Linked DNA regions of Homo sapiens. The protein of the gene in region 2 purifies or fractionates together with the protein of the main gene of each other region. This does not show direct contact. Each region holds a gene or a part of one and is shown on either strand. Other genes may lie near its edges.

Region 1 (5,766 bases), on a different chromosome or scaffold from region 2:
CAAAAATTATTGTAAATGAACCGGGGCCAGATTCAGGAATAGGTTACTGACCTGAAACTGATCACTGGAGTCATATTCAATTTTGGGAGGTGTCTTAGAATTACCAAGAGAAGCTTCTTTCCTTCCTCTCTCCTTCCTCCCTCTTTCTTTCGTTTATTTGCTCATTTATTTTCTCTTTCCCTCTGCTCCCTCTCTCTTTCTCTTCTGAGGATGCTAAATTTGAGAACCTCACATGTAATGGCCAGCAGCCATTATCCACCTGTAAAAATGGCCTGCCTGAGAATAAAACAATTAGAGACAAGCTACGCTAAGGATGCAAAAAGAACAAGCTCTGATGGCTTTGAGCTTATTTGAAAATAAAAGGCTATTTCCTTGTTATTAACCCTTTTATGAAATAATCACAAAAATGATTTAATTGCTTTATCCCCTCCTCCAAATTGGGTTGACTGGAAACATCAATATTTACAAGTGATTCAAACATAGTCCTCTTCAGAGATCAAAAATTTAAAAATGTTGTCTAGTTGACATAATATAGGTTATTTTTTTTACTGCACCAACTAGTGATTAAGCTATCAAAAACCAAAACACAACTAAGAAGACATTGTTAATATTCTTCATTCATTGCATGGGCATTAAGAAAGGATGTAAGACTGATCTATCCAATAGTTTATTTCTCCATGGCAAACATGGCTCTAAACAATAATGACTTTCATACTTTTGTCCACACATAAAATTTATGAGAACAAAGTAAGCTGGTAAAAAAAACAAACAAAATAGTTTGGTCTACTACATATTTATACACTGAAAGGAAAATTAATGGTGGCAATTGAGCCTCACTTAATGGAATGAGTTATACTGGAGTATCTCCCTTTGCGTTACGCAGACTGACATCACAGTTCAACCTGTCAGACATCTGAGATACATTCCTGGGGTTCTGGTTTGTGTATAACTTTTATGGATTCAATAATCTCCTAACACAGAAATGGGTATCTGATAAAGTTGAGTGGAACTGGAATAATCCTGGAATGACCCAAATTATCAAATTTTAGAGGCATACCTAAGACACTAAGACTAGTGTCTTTGTAAAAAAAAAAAATGTTTGAGGAATAAAATTGAGTAAAATGAGAGATACACACAGATCTTACAGCTTACAAAACATAATTTTATTTAAATTTGTATAGATAAAAATCTACCAAAATTTAAACAAAAATTTTATCCAAATCCTTTCCCACAACAAAATTGGACATCATGGAAAAAAAAAACACATTCAAATAAGGTTCCCATCTTTCTACCATAAACTGGTAGATTCTGGGAGGATGAGGAGTAAGAGAGAAACGAGGAGAGAAGATAGTGATACTAAACACAATTTGATCTTCAGTGTTGTCTCATCTTGAAATATCTTAATAACAGAGATTTCCATAAGAATCAGGATTCATTTTTGACACAAAAATGGAAGCTTCCACTCCCAAAATCACAAATAAGGCTTCTGGTTTTCTTTTTAGTGTGAGGTAAACAGTATATTCAATATTAAGGCAAATGGTAAAAACACATGGATGGTATATTAATGCAGATATTCCATTATTAAATATATTTTGGAATACTCACGGATTTTTCAAACATATGTTAGAATTAGAAACCTGTAAAATCTGCAGTAGTGTGTAATAGCTATTTGCTTGAATGTCTTAGCAGTGCCTTTTTAGTAGCTAATATGTTCAGTGTAATCTTATGCCTTTTTAGTAATTAATATATTAAATATAATCTTGTCTGAGTTTTTAAATGGTCTGTTTTTCTTTTTCATTATGTAGGATTAGATGCCCACCAAAATTCTTGTAAATGAAGCAGGACTTGATTTCAAATTCTGTCTATACACACAATATTTGGCCACATAGACCACTCCCCAAAGTCTGCAAAACACTGCCTACTGGGCAGGCTTACAGTGACAGAAAAGTATGAGAACACAAGATATTATTTTTATAAAGACCAAAATCAGATTTAGGCTGTCTAGATATCTTATTCCAGAAAACACAGATTTAAGATTTTTCAGTGATTCTTGCCTTCCCCCTCCCCTTTTCTTCCCCAATGAGATAACCATTTCTTTCACAATGATGAACCATCCCTTTTTACGGAAAAATGGCTTTCTTTCTCCATTGGATCAGGACAAAGACATCACTTCTTGGCCACACTGGCCACAGCCTTCTTGGCTGCATCCTCCAGGTCAATGGCTGAAGTAATGGGGAGTCCGCTGTTGTTGAGTATCTTCTGGGCCTCTTGGACGTTGGTTCCTAGAAGGGGGACAGGGAACAATCACTGAATGAAACTAGAGGTGGCGCCTTATGAAGTTTGCACAAGGACACACAAGACTCACCTGTCTACAGCTTTTCACTAGGAAATGAATTAAATATAGGTTCTCATCAAGGTCACTGACAGAAAAGATTATGTGATGAAATTTATCTCAAGCTGTGGTCCAGCTAGAAAAGAAGATGAAAGCAAGGGCTTGCAAGAGGGAAATGAACATATTTTACTGATGGAAGCTGAGTTGTCTGCTGATAATCACAGCCATGTGGATTTAATGCGGTTTTGGCCCACACCAGAAGTCACTTGTCTTAAAGCCCTCTCAGACGTCATCAGGGGTTTGGGCTGTGACCTGATTTGAGAAAGGAAGTTCCGAGAATCTGCCCAGCTATGTCCACAAATCCACTGCTTTGGAGACTCTGGCGCATCCAGCATGTCCATTTCTGCCTTCTCCTCACTCTATAAAATGAAATGGGCTGAGCCCTTCAAAACGGGCAAAGCAGCCTCTGATGGCAATCTCTTGACTGTTCCTGGTGGATCTGGAGTATCTTCTGGCCAAGTCACTTCATTCAAAGGTGTGCTTGGGGACTATTTAACATGAGAACTGCTTTTCTGCCATTTTAGAGTGAACAACTCCTGTAGGAGAAATGTAATAGAATTTAAGTGTCTAATGAAATATCTCATCCTACATCATTTCCTGTGCTTTTATCTAGTTGGCAAGACAGAGCCTATTTATAAACAAAGACCTTGAAATATAGGCCTTGGAGAACTTGCCTTACCACAAAGAGTGCAGATAAAAAGAGGCACTGGGTCAGCACATTTCATATAAAGAGGCAAATGCTGGATTAAATAGAAATGGGTGGATTGAAAAGATGATGCAGCACTGATTCCCCTGGGACCCTGGGTCTACCCAAGCAGCAGTGAAGATGGCCGCTTGGCACTGTGTCTTCACCTTAAGGCTCACCTACTCCTGTTTTTACAGAGGAAGCTGGTGAAAGTCCTCTCTGGAAGGTGAAAGCATAAAATGTGGGAAGCTGCTACCTAAAATCTCCATGCTGGCTCTGCCATGTACTTGTTATGTAGTTTTGGGTAAATCGTTTAACTTCTTTGAGCCTTAACTTTTGTTTCCATACAGAGCACTATCATCCTCGTAATCTTCCCAAGAACTAATATCATTAAGTGCTTATGTATGCCAGGCACAGTGCTAAGTAACTTATACACAGCATATGAAATCTTTACAAAAACTATGAGTAGTCCTATTGTTCCTATTTTACAGATAAGGCAACTGAGGCACAGAGAAGTTAAATAACTTTTCCATGGTCACAGAGGCGGTAAGTGTCAGAGATGGGACTTGAACTGTTCTCTGTAATTATAAACGCTGCATGTTCTAAAGATATGCTAGTCTGCTTACCTACTTGAAAAATGAGGACAGTATAGCTGATGGTATAGATTGTGATGAGAAGCAAATGAAATGAGTGTAAAAGCATTTTTGTAAATGGTGCAGTATCTGTGGCAGGCCTGGCTGGCTTTGCACCACAGACTCCTGCTCCTCTTCTGCAGTAGAGTGCTATTGCTGGAAAGCAGCTGCCCAGCCAGAAACTACATTTCCCAGGCCCCCCTGCATCTCGAAGGGGACATGTGACTGAGTTCAGGCCAAAGGAATGTCACATGGCCATGACAATCTCCAAAGGGACTCTTCACACTCGGTTTTCCTTGTCTGCTTTCTGGAGTGTTCCTAGCTGGGGCAGCCCTGGAAGTCACCTTTTTGGTTCTGGTTGTGTTTTGTCTTGCTTTTTGTTTTTGAGATAGGCTCTCGCTGTGTCACCCAAGATGGAGTGCAGTGGTGTGATCTCAGCTCACTGCAGCCTCAGCCTCCGGTGCCCAAGTGATCCTTCTACCTCAGCCTCCCAAGTAGCTGAGACTAAAGGCACACATCACCACGCCCAGCTATTTTTTGTATTTTTTGTAGAGATGGGGTTTTTCCACATTGCCCAGGCTGGTCCTGAACTCCTAAACTCAAGGACTCCATCTGCCGTGGCCTCCCAAAATGCTGGGATTACAGGCATGAGCCCTTGCACCCAGCCAAATCACTTCTTGAAGATGGCAATGACTCCTTCAGCCTGGATACTTTAATAACTCTCTGGAGCCAAGCATCTTACCCACTCACCCTCTTAGACCTTATGGGAATGAGAAAGACCCTTCTATAATGTTAAGACTCTGAAATTTCTGCATTTTTCTGTTGTTACAGGAGCTAGCATTATTTTGACTAACATATGACTTTGTAAATGCTGTGGAAGGCAGCTTCTAAAATGGTTTTCAAAGATCAATCACTCTTGCCTCCTGGTAGTCACATCTTTGTAGAATCCGTCCCCCTTGAGTATGATCTGGACCCACAGCCTTACTTCTAATAGATAAGAACATGGCAAAAGTGATGGAGTGTCACTTCTGAGACTAGGTTACAAAAGCCTGTGGCTTCAGTCTTGCTCCCTTTAACTCTTTTTTCACTCTGATGAAGCAAACTACCCTGCTATGAGCTGCCCTCTGGAGAGACTCACCTGGGCAAGGAACTGAGGGCAAACTCTGGCCAACGGCTGATGAGGAACTGAGGCTCTGGGTCTAATAGCCAAGGAGGAAGTGCATCTGGCCAAGAACCATATAAGGGATCTTGGAAGCAAATTCTTCCCTAGTCAAGCCTTGAGATCACTACAGCTCGGCTGACACTGTGATTGCAGCCTTGTGAGAGACCCTGAGTGAGAGGATCCACCTAAGCCACACCCAGATTCCTGACCACAGAAACTGTGAGATAATAACTGTTCTTTTTGTTAAGCTGCTACATTTTGGGGTAATTTGTTAAGTGCTGATAGGTAAGTAACACAGATGTAAAAATGTATTATTTCATTAACACAACCTGCGTGCACTTTGATTCATTTGACTGTGGCAGGTGTTAGATAGCAGGCTAAGGAATTTAGAAACTAATCAAAGCATGGCTTTCATGGAGTAATGACAGAGTGTGAAACAAAAGCCCTGATGGACACAGGAGCAAACCAGTCTTTGGACCAGAAGGTAAATGACAGTTACACGTGTAAATTTTGTTTTAGACAGAGTCTTGCTCTGTCACCCAGGCTGGAGTGCAGTGGCGTGATCTCAGCTCACTGCAACCTTCACCTCCCTGGTTCAAGCAATTCTCCTGCCTCAGCCTCCTGAGTAGCTGGGATGAGAGGCAGTGGCCACCTCTCCCAACCAATTTTTGTATTTTTAGTAGAGATAGGGTCTCACCATGTTGGCCAGGCTGATCTTAACCTCCTGACCTCAAGTGATCCACTTGCCTCGGCCTCCCAAAGTCTGGGATTAGAAGCATGAGCCACCGTACCCCATGTGTAAATTTCTATCTCCTCCTGCAGAGACGTAGACTAGGCCCTTCTTCCTCTTCCTTTCTTCTTTTGAGCACCTTCCAATCTCAATGCAGCTCTAAGA
Region 2 (8,372 bases):
AGGCTGAGGCGGGAAGATCACGAGGTCAGGAGATCGAGGCCATCCTGGCTAACACAGTGAAACCACCGTCTGTACTAAAAATACAAAAAAAAAAAAAAAAAAAAAAAAAAAAAAAATTGCCGGGCGAGGTGGTGGGTGCCTGTAGTCCTAGCTACTCAGGAGGCTGAGGCAGGAGAATGGCGTGAACTCTGGAAGCAGAGCTTGCAGTGAGCCGAGATCGCGCCACTGCACTCTAGCCTGGGCAACAGCAAGACTCCGTCTCAAAAAAAAAGAAAAAAAGAAATACTGCTCTAAATTTCAAGATGCGATTTTTGAAATGGGAAATGAACAGCGAGGTCTTTGTGAGGAGCGCGGCTGGGTACATACCTAAGGTTTCCCGTTTTAGAAAATGGGTCAATACATTCATCCCTTGATAATATTCGGTGAGAAAAAAGCTTCTTCTCGGGGTCTAAAAAGCCTTGGAAAAGAAAACAGGACAAAGATTACATACCTGAGACACGTTTCGGTCACACGGCACATGGTGAAGCCTTGAATGTTTTTTTTAAAGTGGCAGACACACAACATGATGAACTGGCACCAAACACTTCATCCCTTTTGAGGTAAGACGTGGCTCGTGTGGGGCTTCTTTTCTCTTATGGTGAACTTATTTCTCAAACACAAACCATGTTGATAAGTGTTTATAATTCTACTAACATGAAAAATTTGTAATATCTTACTGAAGTGCCTATCTAAACCAGATGGATATGAAAATTATGGAAGGCACTTGCATAAGTAAAACAGGTAAGTCATCATTTGATCTCAAAACACTCTGCATGTGGTTCTTCACGTGATGGAGTCTGGACACTAAGCTGAAATTACTCTGCGTCACCTCGGATATGATCTTTCCTAACCCCAGGCGGGTGGCCCACTGCTCTCATCTGTAATGGTTAGTGGAGGAAAGGTTATCAAGGAAGTTTGCTTCTCCCAAGTTACTTTAGTAGAATTATACAAACTCACACTCTGTGTTGTAGAAATACACAGAAAGGCCGGTTATTTCTAACTATTATACACGTTTTAATAATGGTAATTTAGGCAACATCGAGGAAGCCTGCCTGACAGAGGAGACTGGGAAGGAAGGACATCCGGGACACCACCTTGACCAGCTAGTGCAGAAGGTGCTTCCACAGCGAAGAATCCGCTTAGGCTACATTTGACACTTGCACTTCACATGACATCCGTTAATTACAAGTCTAGTTTAACTTTTTAACAGTAATTTTCTAAAGAGCTTCACATGCTTGATGCTCAGCTTCGACTCCTTAAAGATAGTAAAACCAAGCTATCTGCAAACATCCCTTCTACACTTCAGGAAGCACCACTGTGAAAATCAACAAATCAGGCAGAGGTTTCTTGGGATCACCTCTGCTCTGGGTTTCTTGATCTATAAATTTATCTTCTGAACTTTAAGCCTACTGTGTTATCTTCCTAAGTTTGCAAAGTCTTCAATTTACAGTAAAGTGCTCATATTTTTAAATAAAGATAATTTAAAAATAAGTTATCTCTTGTTAGTTTACAAGAACCACAGAGTATATAGGAAACATATTTCAGTTTGTAGAAGTAGGGGTACTAAACAAAAACAAAACAACCTTTCAGGTAATTTATTCCATTGGTAAAATATGTTGGAGGCATCAAGTTCAATGTCAATTTAATTTCACCAGCCATTTAAAACATTCTGGAGAGAAAAAGCTACGGTTAATTATGAAGCCTCAAAAAGAAATGTTTCAGCTACTCATCATACAAGTGGCTGAAGCCATAAATCTGCACATACCTCAAGAGATAGGTATTCCATGGCACCCACATAACGTGTTTAAGGGTATTCGATCATTTAACATTTACTGAGTTTAACATTACTTGGAATTTTGCTAGGAATATAAGGTGCGGGAATGAATACAACATAATTATTACTCTCCCAAGAGGCTGAAATTGTAAGAAAATTGAACACATTAACACACAACCTCTATCTGGCCTGACACGTGCAGGTGCCGTGGAACAAAACGGGGACTGGATTGCACAAGAGTGAGCCGGTCCAGAGTCGGGAGCTGGGACTGTGGTCTTGTCATGGCACGCAGGTCCCCTGCATAACCGTTAGTTATGCATGAAGCAAAGGAGGTAGATGAGACATCTCAAAAGCACTGTGAACCCAAAGTCCAACCACGCAGCCCACATTCTCTCAAGACTTAAGTCTCACTGGAACGCCTGGCTCCACGCCTCTGCATGGCACACGGGGTCCACTTCCGGATCCGAATGCACCCCGGAACGCCTGGCTCCACGTCCCCACGTGGCACACGGGGTCCACTTCCGGATCTGAACGTGCCCTGACTGCACTCCACATAATCACTATTGTTTTCACGCTGGCTTTTAATCAACTACTCCCTGCACCCATCCCTACTGGGCTCAACCTCTGCACCACCACCTCTGAGATCACAAATGCGAGAAACACATTTGCTGTTTTTGATACAGGTTAAAACATACACATTACAATTAAAACAGAAGAGCTGCTCTGTGCACCACCTCAGTTACCCTGCAGCCCCACGGCACTATGCACAATGCACTGTGGGATCCGTAAGATCTTCTGGGAAGATGAACCTGCTTCCTGGCTGAAGCATCACCACCTCCAGACGTTTCAAATGCAGTACTGCCAGGAGCTTTCCGTTCCCTGATACCACTGGTTTGTTAGTATTTCATTAACCAAAAGATACTTGGGCTTAAAGGAGAAATAAATGCGATTGTTTCTCACTATGCGTAAATTCCAGATGATCACTGAGGCCATGAAGTCGCTAGATCTAAAGTCTGTTAATAGAATTATTAGCGTCTCTACTATCAGATAAAAGACACGCATCGCAAACTCTTAACATCTCTGTCCTAGTCATACTGAAAGCACGCATGCTATCAACACGGTCACTTTCAAAATGAAAAGCATCAAAAGCAGATGCTCGGCGACCACCTCAGGCTTCAGTCCGGACCTCACTTTCTCACTTGTAGAAAAGCTGACCCAGGTCATCTCTACAGATCCCGCCAGCCACAATGAAGCAAAGCTCGGCCTTCCTGAACCACAGCCTGGACACAGTCTTCCTCCTGCGTTGCTGGGCTCGAGGGCCCATGTTCTGTTGAGAATTTCTGCATCCATGTTCAAAGGGATACTGGTCTGCAGTTTTCTTGTGATGTCTTCGTCTGGTTTTGGCCGACATCCCTTGGACACGTTGGAATGCTGGAACTTTAGCATAGAAAGCAGAGCTTGAAACGGAGAAGGCACCAGACGGCCCGGTGACGCTCAACAAACCTAGCTGGTCTCACTGCAGGAGGACCCGCGCTCGAGGCTCTCCGCAGCCAAGCGCCCACCAGCAGGCTCCCTGCTCTGCTGTCTAAGCGGCTCAGAGGCCTGCGGATGTCTGCATGGATGCTCTGCTGAATCTGCGAGCAGCTCCCAGGCTCCCTCCAGCTTTCAGGCTGATAAAGAAACATGGCGTTCTCGTCACCTGCTTCATCTCTCACCACACGAGGCCTCATGAACGTGGAATCAGACTGTGGTGACCCATACCCTGCCTGCTGGTGTGACGGGTGGCAAGGGTGTAGCCCGGCTAAAACCTGGGACCCTCTGCTTTTAGCCCAAACCCCTCCAGCCAAGCATTTAAACAGATCCGAGCCTTCCACATGCTCCTCCTCACTGGGGCTTGTGTGCTCTGACCAGCAAACATCGATGCACCTCAGGAAAGGATAAGCAAGACGTGTGAAACAGCGAACCTAAAGAAGCCCAGCTTCAGAGAGAGACCTGGAGAAGGAAATCCGAAATGAGAAACACTTGCACGGGCACCAGATCAACGTATGGAAGACGGGACAGGAGGAGAAGAAACATCACTGGCATCCTGGACTCAGACGTGCAGGTCACCGGGCTGTGCCCGCTGGTGTGCGCCTTGTGTGGGAGGCGGGAGGCAAACCCGTCACCCTCCCAGGGAGCAGGCCATGCGGCGTGCAGTCCTCACAGTCCTGGGGGTCAGGAACCACTCCCTCACCGAACAATCCTGGTTTTAGGAACTCACCCAGAGGATCCAGTCCACAGAGGAGGGAAAAAAATCTTACATAAAATGATGAAGATTTATAACAACGTGATGGATAAATTCTTAGTGATGAAATCTTATGTGAAAAGAACGGTATGTAAACTTGTACATATATTAAGACAAACTAGGCAAAATTATACATACAAAAAAAAAACCAGAGAATAGGGGACAGCCATGGATATGATGAGCGTGAGGAATAATTTTCTGGTTTTTAGTCTTTCCCTGACATTTGTTATTGTGAGAGTGATGCCCCGCTCAGTTGTCTGGTTTGAGTGGGCGTCACTGTCCCTGCGGTTTGTGTGACTTATGGGTTGTCCTCTGGGAGGTGCCTGGCACTGGCTGCAACGGCACAATCTGGGGCTGGAACACATGGGGATTTGGGGGTCTATTTCCACACAGTGGGCAGCTTAGTCGGCCTGGGCTGCTCTAAAGAAACTCCATAGTGTGGGTGACTCAGGAACACACGTCCCTTCCTCACAGTTCTGGAGGCCGGCGTCCGACCACGGCGCCAGCAACTTGGCTGCAGGTCAGTGGGCGCCGGCTTGCTGCATTTCCCGCAGCTCCCAGGGCCCACCTGGGTAAGGGCCCTGATTCCATTCACGAGGATGGAGTCCACAGGACCTCACCACCTCCCACGCCCCTCCTAACACCCTCGCCCTGGGACTGGGTTTTAACACATGGACTTGGGGGCTGTAAAACCCTCAGATCATAGCAGGCATTATTTCTTCACTGGCCCGAGGAAGTGAGCAATATCACCCTTGTGCATAATTACTCGTCTTCACATCATCTGTCTCAGGCAGCTATGCAGCAGCAGCCATAATGTTACAGGTGAATATTTCAAATTTCAATTACAAGAGGAATTAAAGGTCATGATCACAATTTCCTATAAAGGCACTAAATATTAAAGGAGGATTCAAAATTCATTTCCCCAACAACAACAAAAGACTAAGACCAATCTAGAAAGACCTTTGAATTTTAAAATGCTCAGTCTAACAACCTCTGGAGCCAGTACGGAGGAGCTTGCCTACACTGCCACTCGGCGCCTACATCCATGTGGGACAGACGGTCGCCGTCCCGTGGCAGCCCCCTCGCTTTGTCCACGTGGGACAGACGGTCGCCGTCCCGCACTGTCCCCTTGCTTCGTCCACGTGGGACAGACGTTGCTTCGTCCACGTGGAACAGACGGTCGCTGTCCCACTTTGTCCCCTCGCTTTGTCCATGAAGGACAGACGGTCACCATCCTGTGGCGTCCCCTCACTGCATCCACATGGGACAGTCACCGTCCCGTGGCACTGTCCCCTCGATTCGTCCTGCTGGTGCTGCCTCCCAGAGGGCACCGTAGCCTGGCATTCACGCTATCACCCAGGGAGACAGAAGCAAACGCTAAACCCTAAGGGTACCCATGTGTAGGCAGGGGACAATCATGCTGTGTGCAGTGACAGCACCCAGCAAGAGCACACACAAGCAGCCCGGCCCAAAGTCCCTGTGAACTGATTTAAGAAGGTATCTGTCGGAGGACGCTCGCAGAAGTTTCCACGTGCCCATGTGGTCCTGACAAACTCCCAAAGCGGCCCACCCAGTACCGCACCCGGCCAGAGCAGCCGCGGCCCCACCCAACAGCCCTGGTGGCAGAATTCCCTTACCTCTCACAACCCCCTGCACAACGGCCAACCCTAAGACTACAACTGAGTTGCAGGAGAGCTTCTTTTCTTTCTTCATCTTTAAGAAACCATCACCGAAAACAGGAAAGAAACCCACTGTTCACACGGCCTCTTCGGCTGCGGCTTGACTGACCTGCGATGGTGTGTGCGTACAGCCGGCTGCCGAAGGTGAAGACGTGCAGCTCGTACAGCTTGGCGATCTTCTCCAGGAAGTCCTTGCAGTGTGGACGCAGGCGCGTGTGCAGCATGGGCTCACCCCGGCCCAGCTGGAAGTGAAAGATGCCCTAAAAAGAATAGTAGCAACAGTCGGGAGAAAAGGCCTGAGGAGCCCCGGCCGCCCCCGCAACCTGTGTGCCCGAGACAGGCATCCTGAGAACACACGTGTGCCCCAGACAAGCGTTCTGAAGACACGCGTGTGCCCGACAGGCGTCCTGAAGACACACGGGTGCCTGAGACAGGCGTCCTGAAGACACACATGTGCCCATCCCTCCACATGGGACAGAGGATACACGTTTGCATGTACACGCCCCTCCACACGGGACAGAGGACACATGTGAGCATGTACACGCCCCTCCACACGGGACAGAGGACACGTGTGCGTGTACACGCCCCTCCACACGGGACAGAGGACATGCGTGTGTACACGCCCCTCCACGTGGGCATGGGACAGAGGACATGCGTGTGGACACACCACTCCACGTGGGACAGAGGATGCGTTTGCACCCGCCCCTCCACATGGGACAGGGGATAGGAGTGTGCACACACCTCTCCACGTGGGACAGAGGACGCATGTCCGCCTGACCCTCCAAATAAGGACGTGACCCTAACTGGTGCAAGGGGCTACCCGTGGCATTTAAAACCCACTGTGTAAGTAGTTTCCATGCACGCGGTACGAGTGAGTGAGTGCGGCCTTCTCTGCTGCGGGAATGCCCTCAGTGAGTGTGAATACTGACTGCCCGTGGTAACTAGGATAACCACCTACCTGCAACAACTGTTCAAGATAACCACCCTGGGTACCACGTTAACAGTAACAGCCTACGGTAACTACATGATAACCACCGATGACAGCTACACTAACTACTCACAATAGCTACCTGCCTGCAACGACCCGCCTAGGATAACCACCCCCGATAACCAGCCAAGAGTAACAGCCTGTGATAACTACACGATAACCATCCCCAATAACCACGCCAACAGTCACCACCTATGATAACTACATAACCACCGATGATAGCTACACTAACTACTCCTGGTAACTACCTACCTGCAACGACCGCCTAGGACATAACCACCCCTGATAACCACGCCAACAGTAACAACCTACACTAACTATGAGCTAACCACTGATGTCACTTCTGCCTTTGTTTCCTCGCTGATACGTGTTACACAGCAAGGCCACCGCAGCTGCTCGGAACAGACCTCCACCAACATCACGTGCTGACAGTGTTTTCCTGAGCTACTGAATAAAGGAAATCAACATTCCCGGGTAACCTGGTATAACGCATGGGTGATTTTCAGACAGTTTCTTTCATCTACATATACAACATAAAAGCTGAAAGTATTCTAAGTCATATTTAGTAGACAGTGAAATGAGCAACACCGACTCGCTTACATATGATCGACATGCAAATGAGTCTGCTTTCCTTAGGAAGCTAAACTTCGATCCTTTAAATCCTGTTATTTTCTCAGTAAAATATTTACTCTTAATGGCTTTAAAAAAAGGTAGATGACTTAAGCTCAGTTACATTTTTCTAGTTCTAAGTTAGTTACGACCCTCATGAAGAAGCTACTCTGTTCAAGGTTTAGGAGTGAGAAGTTCTAGTAACAACTTTCCCAGTTACATTTTTCTAGCTCTAAGTTAGTCACGACCGTCATGAAGAAGCTACTCTGTCAAATATTTAGGAGTGAGAAGTTCTAGTAACAACTTTCCCATTACTCAACAGTAAAAAGTCCAGCAGCTGTCCAGGCTTCGGGAGCTGTGGCCAGCACCACTTCTGATCCCTGAAATTGCTTTCAGAGGGGCCAGCAGTAGGGCCAGGCACCAGCCTCAGGGTCTCCTCTGGATGTCAAGTGGGGCACACTACTGCTACTGAGGAGGCAGAGGACAGACCGTTCATGCTTAGACCCCCCTCCCCACTACATCAGGACACTGTCACCTTCCAGACCACACAACTGAGAAACAGCCACATTATAACTAGACTCCACTGTCTTCAGCAGGCCTATCCTGGAGATACTGAGAATCACATGAATTTTTTGGTTTCCCAGTGAATATAATCCATGCTGACACTCTACTGCAGCTTATTAAACATTCAATAGCATTATATCTAAAAGAACAATGTACCTAACTTAATTTAAAAATACTTTATTATTAAAAATCACCGGGCGTGGTGGCTCAATGCCTATAATCCCAACACTTTGGGAGGCCGAGGCGGGAGGATCACTTGAGGTCAGGAGTTCGAGACCAGCCTGGCCAATATGGCACAACCCCGTCTCTACTAAAAATATAAAAATTAACTGGGTGTGGTGGTACACGCCTGTAGTCCCAGCTACTCGGGAGGCTGAGGCACAAGAATGGCTTGAACCCGGGAGGTGGAGGTTGCAGGATAGAGAGATCGTGTCA
Region 3 (8,372 bases), on a different chromosome or scaffold from region 2:
AAGTCACATTGAAATCATCTGATTACTTATGAGTGAAACAAATCCTTAACATGAGTTACAATGAAACAATACAACTTACTGCGGGTCACTGAGTGTATCAGGTGTTTCTTTTATAAGATGATCCTGCAGCACCTACAAAGGGGGGAAATACCAAAGCCTTTGGTTTTACTGAACTGTCAATGGTGAACAGACAGAGCCTAGTTAAATAAAATCCACTTTTTAAAAATCCCCATAAACATCATCTTACCTAAGAGCAGAATCAAATAGCAAAACTGAAAGGTTTGAATTTTACCAATTTTCCTTTTCCTATCAATTCCCAAGGTTAGCTGCTTTAGATACTTCTTCCCCACGCACCTATAAATACTCCTGACCACTTGTTCCTCCATTTCTCTTTCACACAGCAATGAAGTGAATGTGAATCTGGGAGATAAATTAGGCTCTGCTTTCCTCTCCCCTCTTTCTGTAAGCCTGCTTGCCCACAAAGAACACCATACATTGTGCTCTGCTCCATCACAGAGGAAGGTATGAGGTTTTCAAATATACGGAAGTCTGTTTCCTCCTGGGGTGCAGTGCAAGGGAGTCCACTGTTCCAGTAACTGCTTTATCAGCAATAACAATAACTAACACTTATTGAGCTTTTGCATGTGCCAGGTATTGCTTTGAGCACATTTTAGGCATTAACTAAATCAATCCTCAGAACTCCATGAAGTACAAGTTAATTCCTGCTTTATAGATTATGAAATGAAGGCACAGAAACTTGCCCAAGGTCACACACCTAGTTGCTAGCTGATGGCAGAGTGGGACTAGAACCAATGGTGTGACCCAGAGCCCATGTCTTATAGACAGTATGATATACTATCTATAATGCTGACATTTTGATTTTCATTTGCCTAACTCCTCTCTAATACATGGGTTTGGAACTGGAGACAGTTCAATGCCAACAGCTGTAATGAACTGTAACATAGCCAACTAAAGGGAAAATAAAATGGAAGAAATAACCCAATGTTCAATGATTAGTTATCCATCCATGACAAAGCCAAGAACAAATTTATTTTCTAAAGCCTATGAAGAGCCAAACTAGTTGTCTCAAAATCCATTTCCTAAAGCTCTTAGCGTCCAAACTCATGACACTTCACTCTTGTAACGTTTATAACTTGGCATTTTAAATCAACCAATGATTCTTATGCTACAGATGGGTTAGAAAACTCCATTTGAGCATATGATTAAAGCTACAAACCCTCTCTCTAGAAAAACACGCTTGGTACACCTGAGAAATGAAGAATGGAAGAACCTAAATGAGGTACTACAATCAAGTTATGTGTTGGGGAGTGCTGGGTGAAGAGATTAGATAGGGAAGCAGGGACCAGATCATGCAGAGCCTTGTATGTCAAGACAAGAAATTTGAACTTAAAAGTGTAATGGAGAGCCACAGGAAGGATGGCTAATTGAAAGGAGGAAGGAAAGCAGGGGGAGAGGGTCAGATGGAAATGTTTAAGTAGGGTTATACACAGGGTGTTGTGGAAACACAGGAGTACTAAATAAGGGAATAAATGCAAGCATAGATTTTTTAAAAAATTATCAATTCCCTCCTCACTTCTACTTCATCTACTTTTATTTCTCAATATAATTCTAACAACTTTGTTGTCTGGTTTTTCTAGTCCATATATTGGGAATAGAAAATGAAGGGGGAAGAAATGAGACACTACTAGAAACAGACACACTGAAAGCCACAAACAGGTATGGCTGGTAACTTTTTATGAGAAAGTTATGGCAAAAGTGTTAGCCCAGTGTGGAGAAACTTTATCTGAAAATGGGAGTATAAATTTGTTTGGCCTTTTGAAGGGCCATTTATCATTATAAAAAATTTTAATGTTCTTATTCTTTGGCCCAACATATGCTTACTAGAAGTTCTAGTAAGTATCACTCCCACAAGGGTATGAAGAGATCTACTCAAGAATGTTTACTGAAATAGCATTTGTTATGATAAAAATTGGAAAAAAATCCAAATGTATATTAATCTAAAAAGTTAAATAAACTACAGTACATCCATGTATAGTAATACCAGAGAGCCAATAAAAAGAAAAAGACACTAAGTTAGATCTGTATATATATATATATTGATATGGAAACACGAGAGAAAATAATTTTAGATTTATTTTTAGATATATTACTTGTTTAGATTACATAAAACATCTACTTTTTAAAAATATAATAAAGACTTCAAAATTAAAATGGAAAATTTAAATACTGTAGAAAGATCCAATCCAAAATGTTAATCTTGTTAAAGATCCAAAATGGTTATTTAACTAAACAGAATTTTAAAAAGGCAACCTTCAGTTGGAAATACTCTACTTACTCATTCCCCTACAATCCCAAGTAAAAGAGCTGTCATTATGCTTATAACCCTTAAATACTTAAAAAAAAAAAATAGATTCAGAATGATTCCAGAACTTACACTTGTAATTTCATCCTTACAAAATGCTATGGCTTCAGGTTGCTTGCTTGGAGGAAAAGCCGCTTCAAATGCATCTTTTGCTGCAAACGCAGCTGGTGTGTAAGTATCACACTGAGCCATTAGCCAATATCCCATTAAACTTTTTAAGTAGGGAGCCAACTGTTTCTTTACTTTAAGGATAAGTTTTTCAAAAGCTTGTTGTGTGGCTTCTCGGACGCGACGGTCATGATCCTATTAAAAATATAAATGTGATTTAAAATAGCTCTAGCCCATAAAAACAATCACAGACATTTCCGGATATGCTATAATGACCCATTACCAAGAATTCACCTATGTATTAAGCTAAACTGAAATCATTTTTTTTAAATCAATAATTTGGAGGTTTTTAAATCAGAAACTATGTAAAATAATTTATTAATTTTTCTTTCTCCCCTTCTCCCAATGAGATAGGATTGTATTCAAGACAGATTCAAAGTTGGGCCTTGAGGCCGAGCCTGGTGGCTCGTGCCTATAATCTCAGTACTTTCGGTGGCCGAGGCAGGCGGATTATTGGCGGTCAGGAGTTCAAGACCAGCCTGGCCAACATGGTGAAACCCCGTCTCTACTAAAAATACAAAAAATTAGCGGGGCATGGTGGCACACACCTGTAATCCCAGTTACTCAGGAGGCTAAGGCAGGAGAATCACTTGAACCCAGGAGACAAGGTTGCAGTGAACAGAGATCGCGCCACTGCACTCCAGCCTGGGTGACAGAATGAGACTCCGTCTCAATTAAAAAAAAAAAAAAAAAAGTTGGGTCTTCAATAATTAAGCAACTCACTCTCATTCTTCTGCAGCAAATATACAGGGAATAAAATCACTATCAAAATTTATTAAAACTGGAAAGCACCTGGGTAATTCTCCAGTAACAACCTAATTTCTGAAAACAGACTTCCTAAATGTTCTTCATAACCCAACACAATCCAATCTTTTTTTTTTTTTTTTTTAAAGACATTGTCTTGTTCTATTGTCCAGGCTGGAGTGCAGTGGTGCAATCTTGGCTCACTGCAACCTCCGCCCCACCGGGTTCAAGCGATTTTCCTGCCTCAGCCTCCCAAGTAGCTGGGATTACAGGCATCCATCACCACACCCGGCTAATTTTTGTATTTTTAGTAGAGACAGGGTTTCACCATGTTGGCCAGGCTGGTCTCAAACTCCTGACCTCAAGTGATCTGCCCACCTCAGCCTCCCAAAGTGCTGGGATTACAGGCATGAGCCACCATACCAGGCCCCAATCTCTTTTTTTATTTCCACGCTCTTCTCAAGTGTTAACAATTCAATCTGCATAACAATGCTGACATAACATTTAATAACCCTCACCAAAAATCAACATTATAAATTTGAGAGTCTCCATGACTCCAACCAAAAAATATACAACAGAAATAAACTAGCAAAGTTTTAATACTTACAAGTGAAATTTTGCAAAAAATTCTTGGCCAATATGGAAGAACTCCTTTCACAGTTTCTGTGTCTCTCTCTGTACACATGGTTCCAAATTCCTGCATAGCCTAAAAGTAAGTTATTAACATCATTAGGATTAACAACCATAATAACTGGCTATAGATTATTCTGTTCTGGAAGCTTTGTCTATTTTATGTAATAGGAGAATACACTATTTCTCTTTATGCCATATGAGACTAGTTTGAAGAGCTCTTTCACAGGCTACTACGGTAGAAACTCTTCAGTTGTTTTTTTAAAAATAAAACATCTACAAACAAAAAAACCTCATTTAAAGTTACAAGGTCAAAGTTACATTCCCTAATGGGAAAAACTATACAGCCAAAATTCCAAAGCACTTTAAAAAAGTTCACTGTAACAAACTAATTTACGACCTAGAAAATAAATATCAACTAAGTTTAAGACTCTGTGTCAGAAAAAAGTACAATTATAAAAGAACTTAGCAATAAATTGTTCATTTTTCTTTACATAAAACATGCTAATGACATTTTATTTTAACAAAGGGATTTTCTTGATAATTTTTATGAAAACAAGAAAACTTGCTTTTAATTTTGTGGTGACATCTTTCTTTGAAAGTTTCCGCAGCACCATTCGGAAATCAGAATCTACAAGACTGTCAATTTCTTCAGCTCCTTGAATAGCAGGAACATAGCCTAGGTCACTCTGAGATGTTCCAAAACCAATAAATCCAGGCACTGTTCCCTGTTCTTTGGCAAGGAGTTCTGCAGCTCGGCCACTGTTTGAAGGCTGATAAGAAAATTACGGAGAAAAAAGTCAGAGTCCAGGAAGGGTTCAAAACTTAACTTTATAATTCCTTGGCTATTCCCATGGTCAGAATGAGCTTTTATTTTATTTTCTTTTTTCCTAGCCTAAAATTTCATCTATTGCAAAGTTCCCCAAAGATTAATGGTTTTGTTGCCAAGAATCCATCAATACTGATCCTAGAAATTATTCTGTTTCTTAAACATTAGAATGTTTTGTAAACCATGGATACAATCCATTAGTGGCTCATGATATCAATATAATGGACCATGACAGAATTTTAAAGAAATTGATTAAAATTTTTAAAATCAGAATGTATCACATGCAGGAAAATTTTCATAAATGCTGTTATGAATTTTTTATTTCTAACTTTCATATAAATAGTATGTATACACATATGTATACTATGTAATGATGTAAAATGAACTCATAAATAGAACCCATCCTTTCATTCACCCATTAAATGAACAAATATTTATTAAACAATCACAATGGCCCAGGTCTAATGATAGCTGCCTCTAGACTGAGAGTTCCTTGAGAGTGGATACACTCATTTCCACACACTCCAAAGCCTAGCCTAACCTCTTTGGGCTAAAATTACATTATTATAGCCATAAAAATCAATACAACAGTCAATCTATAATACAGACTCCTTTGTTTTGAATCATAGTCAGTGGTTTCTTTGACTGATACACAATATAGTAGTCTTCTACTAAAAGGAGGTGAGTTGATACAGAGAAAGAAAATATTTGAACTGCTAAAAGAAATTAACTTATTGTTATCTAAACAGAAAATGCTTCAGTTTGACCACCAAGCTGACATCACAACCCATCTAAAGTCATCTATTTCTTATTTCTCTATAAGGATGTTTGCCAACGGTTATCCAAATGTGTGATTCAAATTGCTCATACCGGCCGGGCACAGTGGCTCACGCCTGTAATCTCAGCACTTTGGAAGGCCAAGGCGGGCAGATCACGAGGTCAGGAGTTCGAGACCAGCCTGGCCAACATGGTGAAACCCCATCTCTACCAAAGATACAAAAAATTAACTGGGCGTGGTGGCGCACGCCTGTAATCCCAGCTACTCGGGAGGCTGAGGCAAGAGAATCGCTTGAACCGGAAGGCAGAGGTTGCAATGAGCCAAGATTGTGCCATTGCACTCCAGCCTGGGTGACAGGGCGAGACTCTGTCTCAAAAAAAAAAAAAAACAACAAAAAAAAACAAATTGCTCATACCGGCCAGGCAAGGTGGCTCATGCCTGTAATCCCAACACTTTGGGAGGTCAAGGCGGGTGGATCACTTGAGCCCTGAAGTTCGAAACCAGCCTCGGCAACATGGCAAAACCCTGTCTCTACCAAAAACACAAAAATTAGCCAGGCGTGGTGGCATGTGCCTGTAATCCCACCTACTCAGGAGGGTGAGTCATGAGAATTGCTTGAACCTGGGAGGCTGAGGTTGCAGTGAGTCAAGATTGTGCTACTGCACTCCACCCAGGGCAACAGAGCGAGGCTCTGTCTCAAAAAAAAAAAAAAAATTCCTAATACCTAGCAAAAGTGTGTTTGGAAAATTCATCTGACAAGGAATAATCTGGCCTACTTCCTAAACTGAACTGAGTGAACAGGAAAGAAAATGATGGCCTGCATTACATTTGTTTTCAATCTGTAGCATTTAAGACTAATTCCAAAAAAGGTTCTCTATTTTTTTTTTTAAGTGAAAGTAAGTTTATTAAGAAAATAGGTCAGGCGCGGTGGTTCACGTCTGTAATCCCAGCACTTCGGGAGGCTGAGGAGGGAGATCACCTGAGATCAGGAGTTCAAGACCAGCCTGGCCAACATGGTGAAACGCCGTCTCTACTAAAAATACAAAATTAGCCAGGCATGGTGGCACATGCCTTTAATCCCAGCTACTTGGGAGGCTGAGGCAGGAGAATTGCTTGAACCCAGGGGGCAGAGATTGCAGTGAGTCGAGATTGCGCCATTGCACTCCAGCCTGGGCAAAAAGAGCGAAACTCCATTTCAAAAAAAAAAAAGAAAAGAATAAAAGAATGGCTACTCCATAGGCAAAGCAGCTGTTCTCTATTTTTTAAGTTTATTAAAATGAATTAATATTAATTATTCAATTCACCTTTCTCAATATTGGTACATGAATAAAGAGCCACAAAGGAAGTAGTTAGTGAATTATAATTCTTAAACTAAATATGATGACTTTAGGGTATCAGAATTTTCTACAATCTCATGTGTAAACGGTTTTATTATGAAACAGAATAAAAAACTAATTATTGCTAACATCTAAAGGAGTTGAGGCTGAAATAACAGAATTAGGAGTGATAACTAGGGGCAAAAGAGAAGGTATCAAATTTCCAGTCTCCAATTTAAAAGTAACAAGTTACTTTTAAATGCACTATCTTTTTTTAATGTCTACTTTAAATTTAAAATATAGTTACTCTTATGATCTTTGTATGTTAAGTGCTATACCCATAGTTCAATAAAAATTAAGAAACAATTCTATTTATGGCACTTATTTTTTTTTTTGTACTATGCCTACTTCTGTCTACACTCTTTCATGCCTAGCTTCTAGAGTTATTTGTGGTGGCAATCCTGAGTCTACAAAGACCAAACCAAGGAAGACTTACAAGACCTTTCACCATCTAACCTCAACTTTTCCCAGTCTTATCTCCTGCCACTCTTTCCTTCCCTTGCCCCACTTCCTTCTCCCTTCTTCAAATTATGCTGCCATCATTCATGCCCTAGTAGCAAACTGAATTCGAAGTTCTCTGAGGCAGGGCATGGTGGCTCACACCTGTAATCCCAGCACTTTAGGAGGCTGAGCGTATCTTTGGGCAGATCACTTCAGGCCAAGAGTTTGAGACCAGCCTAGCCAACATGGCAAAACCCTGTATCTATTAAAAATACAAAAAATTAGCCGGGTGTGATGGTGCATGCCTGTAATCCCAGCTACTCGAGAGGCTGAGGCAACAAAACTGCTTGAACCTGGGAGGTGGAGGTTGCAGTGACCCGAGACTCTGTCTCAAAAAAAAAAAAAAAGTTATCTATGTGATGGCCTTTCACAATTTGATCTTTATATAACCTTTTTTCTCTACCTGAAAACGCTTCCTTTCTTTTCACTGTCTGACAAACTCCTACTCATCTTTCAAACTCATGTTTGCAACACTTGCCTTCCTCCATTCTCTTCCATTCTCCCACATTCTTTCTTCTAATACCTGCATCATAATTCTTTAACATTTGCTTACATATGTGTCTGTATCATCAAACTAATAGTTCAAGAACAGCAGACATCTATTATCTCTGAATACCTGACATCCAGTATCAGAGTCTTCTATTGAAGACTTTGCCACATTAAAGTTAAAATCCCAACTCCACAACTTCCTGGCTACATGAGCTTAGGCAAGCTAATTTCTCTAAACCTCAGTTTCACCACATTTAAAATGAGATATGAGTAATTAATTCATTAGTTGGGTTGTTTTCATGATTAAGCATAAGTTTTTAAATCACCATAGTAATAACTGATTCCAGCAAGAATCAAAGGGTGCTCAAACCATTAGGTGAAAGTTTGTGGAAGAGCAGGACATTCACAGTTTCAAACTAACATATTATTTGTTATTGGCCAATGGAAAAATATAACTTTATAATGAACAACACC

Evidence for each region. The genes of interacting proteins can lie anywhere in the genome.
Region 1: the proteins of CTDP1 (region 2) and SUCLG2 purify together in Homo sapiens (affinity purification with mass spectrometry; 2 studies listed by BioGRID and IntAct, with this or other methods). This does not show direct contact.
Region 3: the proteins of CTDP1 (region 2) and LTN1 purify together in Homo sapiens (affinity purification with mass spectrometry; 2 studies listed by BioGRID and IntAct, with this or other methods). This does not show direct contact.

The regions. Positions count from the first base shown.
Region 1 is NC_000003.12:67,373,578-67,379,343, forward strand, and holds the end of SUCLG2 (succinate--CoA ligase [GDP-forming] subunit beta, mitochondrial isoform 2 precursor), read right to left. Parts: intron 2,929-5,766; coding exon of another isoform or gene 2,885-2,928; exon of another isoform or gene 2,283-2,884; coding exon 2,167-2,282; 3' UTR 1,142-2,166; downstream 1-1,141. UniProt on the Homo sapiens protein: GTP-specific succinyl-CoA synthetase functions in the citric acid cycle (TCA), coupling the hydrolysis of succinyl-CoA to the synthesis of GTP and thus represents the only step of substrate-level phosphorylation in the TCA.
Region 2 is NC_000018.10:79,702,431-79,710,802, reverse strand, and holds part of CTDP1 (RNA polymerase II subunit A C-terminal domain phosphatase), read right to left. Parts: intron 6,037-8,372; coding exon 5,886-6,036; intron 458-5,885; coding exon 367-457; intron 1-366. UniProt on the Homo sapiens protein: Processively dephosphorylates 'Ser-2' and 'Ser-5' of the heptad repeats YSPTSPS in the C-terminal domain of the largest RNA polymerase II subunit. This promotes the activity of RNA polymerase II.
Region 3 is NC_000021.9:28,982,237-28,990,608, forward strand, and holds part of LTN1 (E3 ubiquitin-protein ligase listerin), read right to left. Parts: intron 4,699-8,372; coding exon 4,495-4,698; intron 4,002-4,494; coding exon 3,903-4,001; intron 2,687-3,902; coding exon 2,456-2,686; intron 133-2,455; coding exon 80-132; intron 1-79.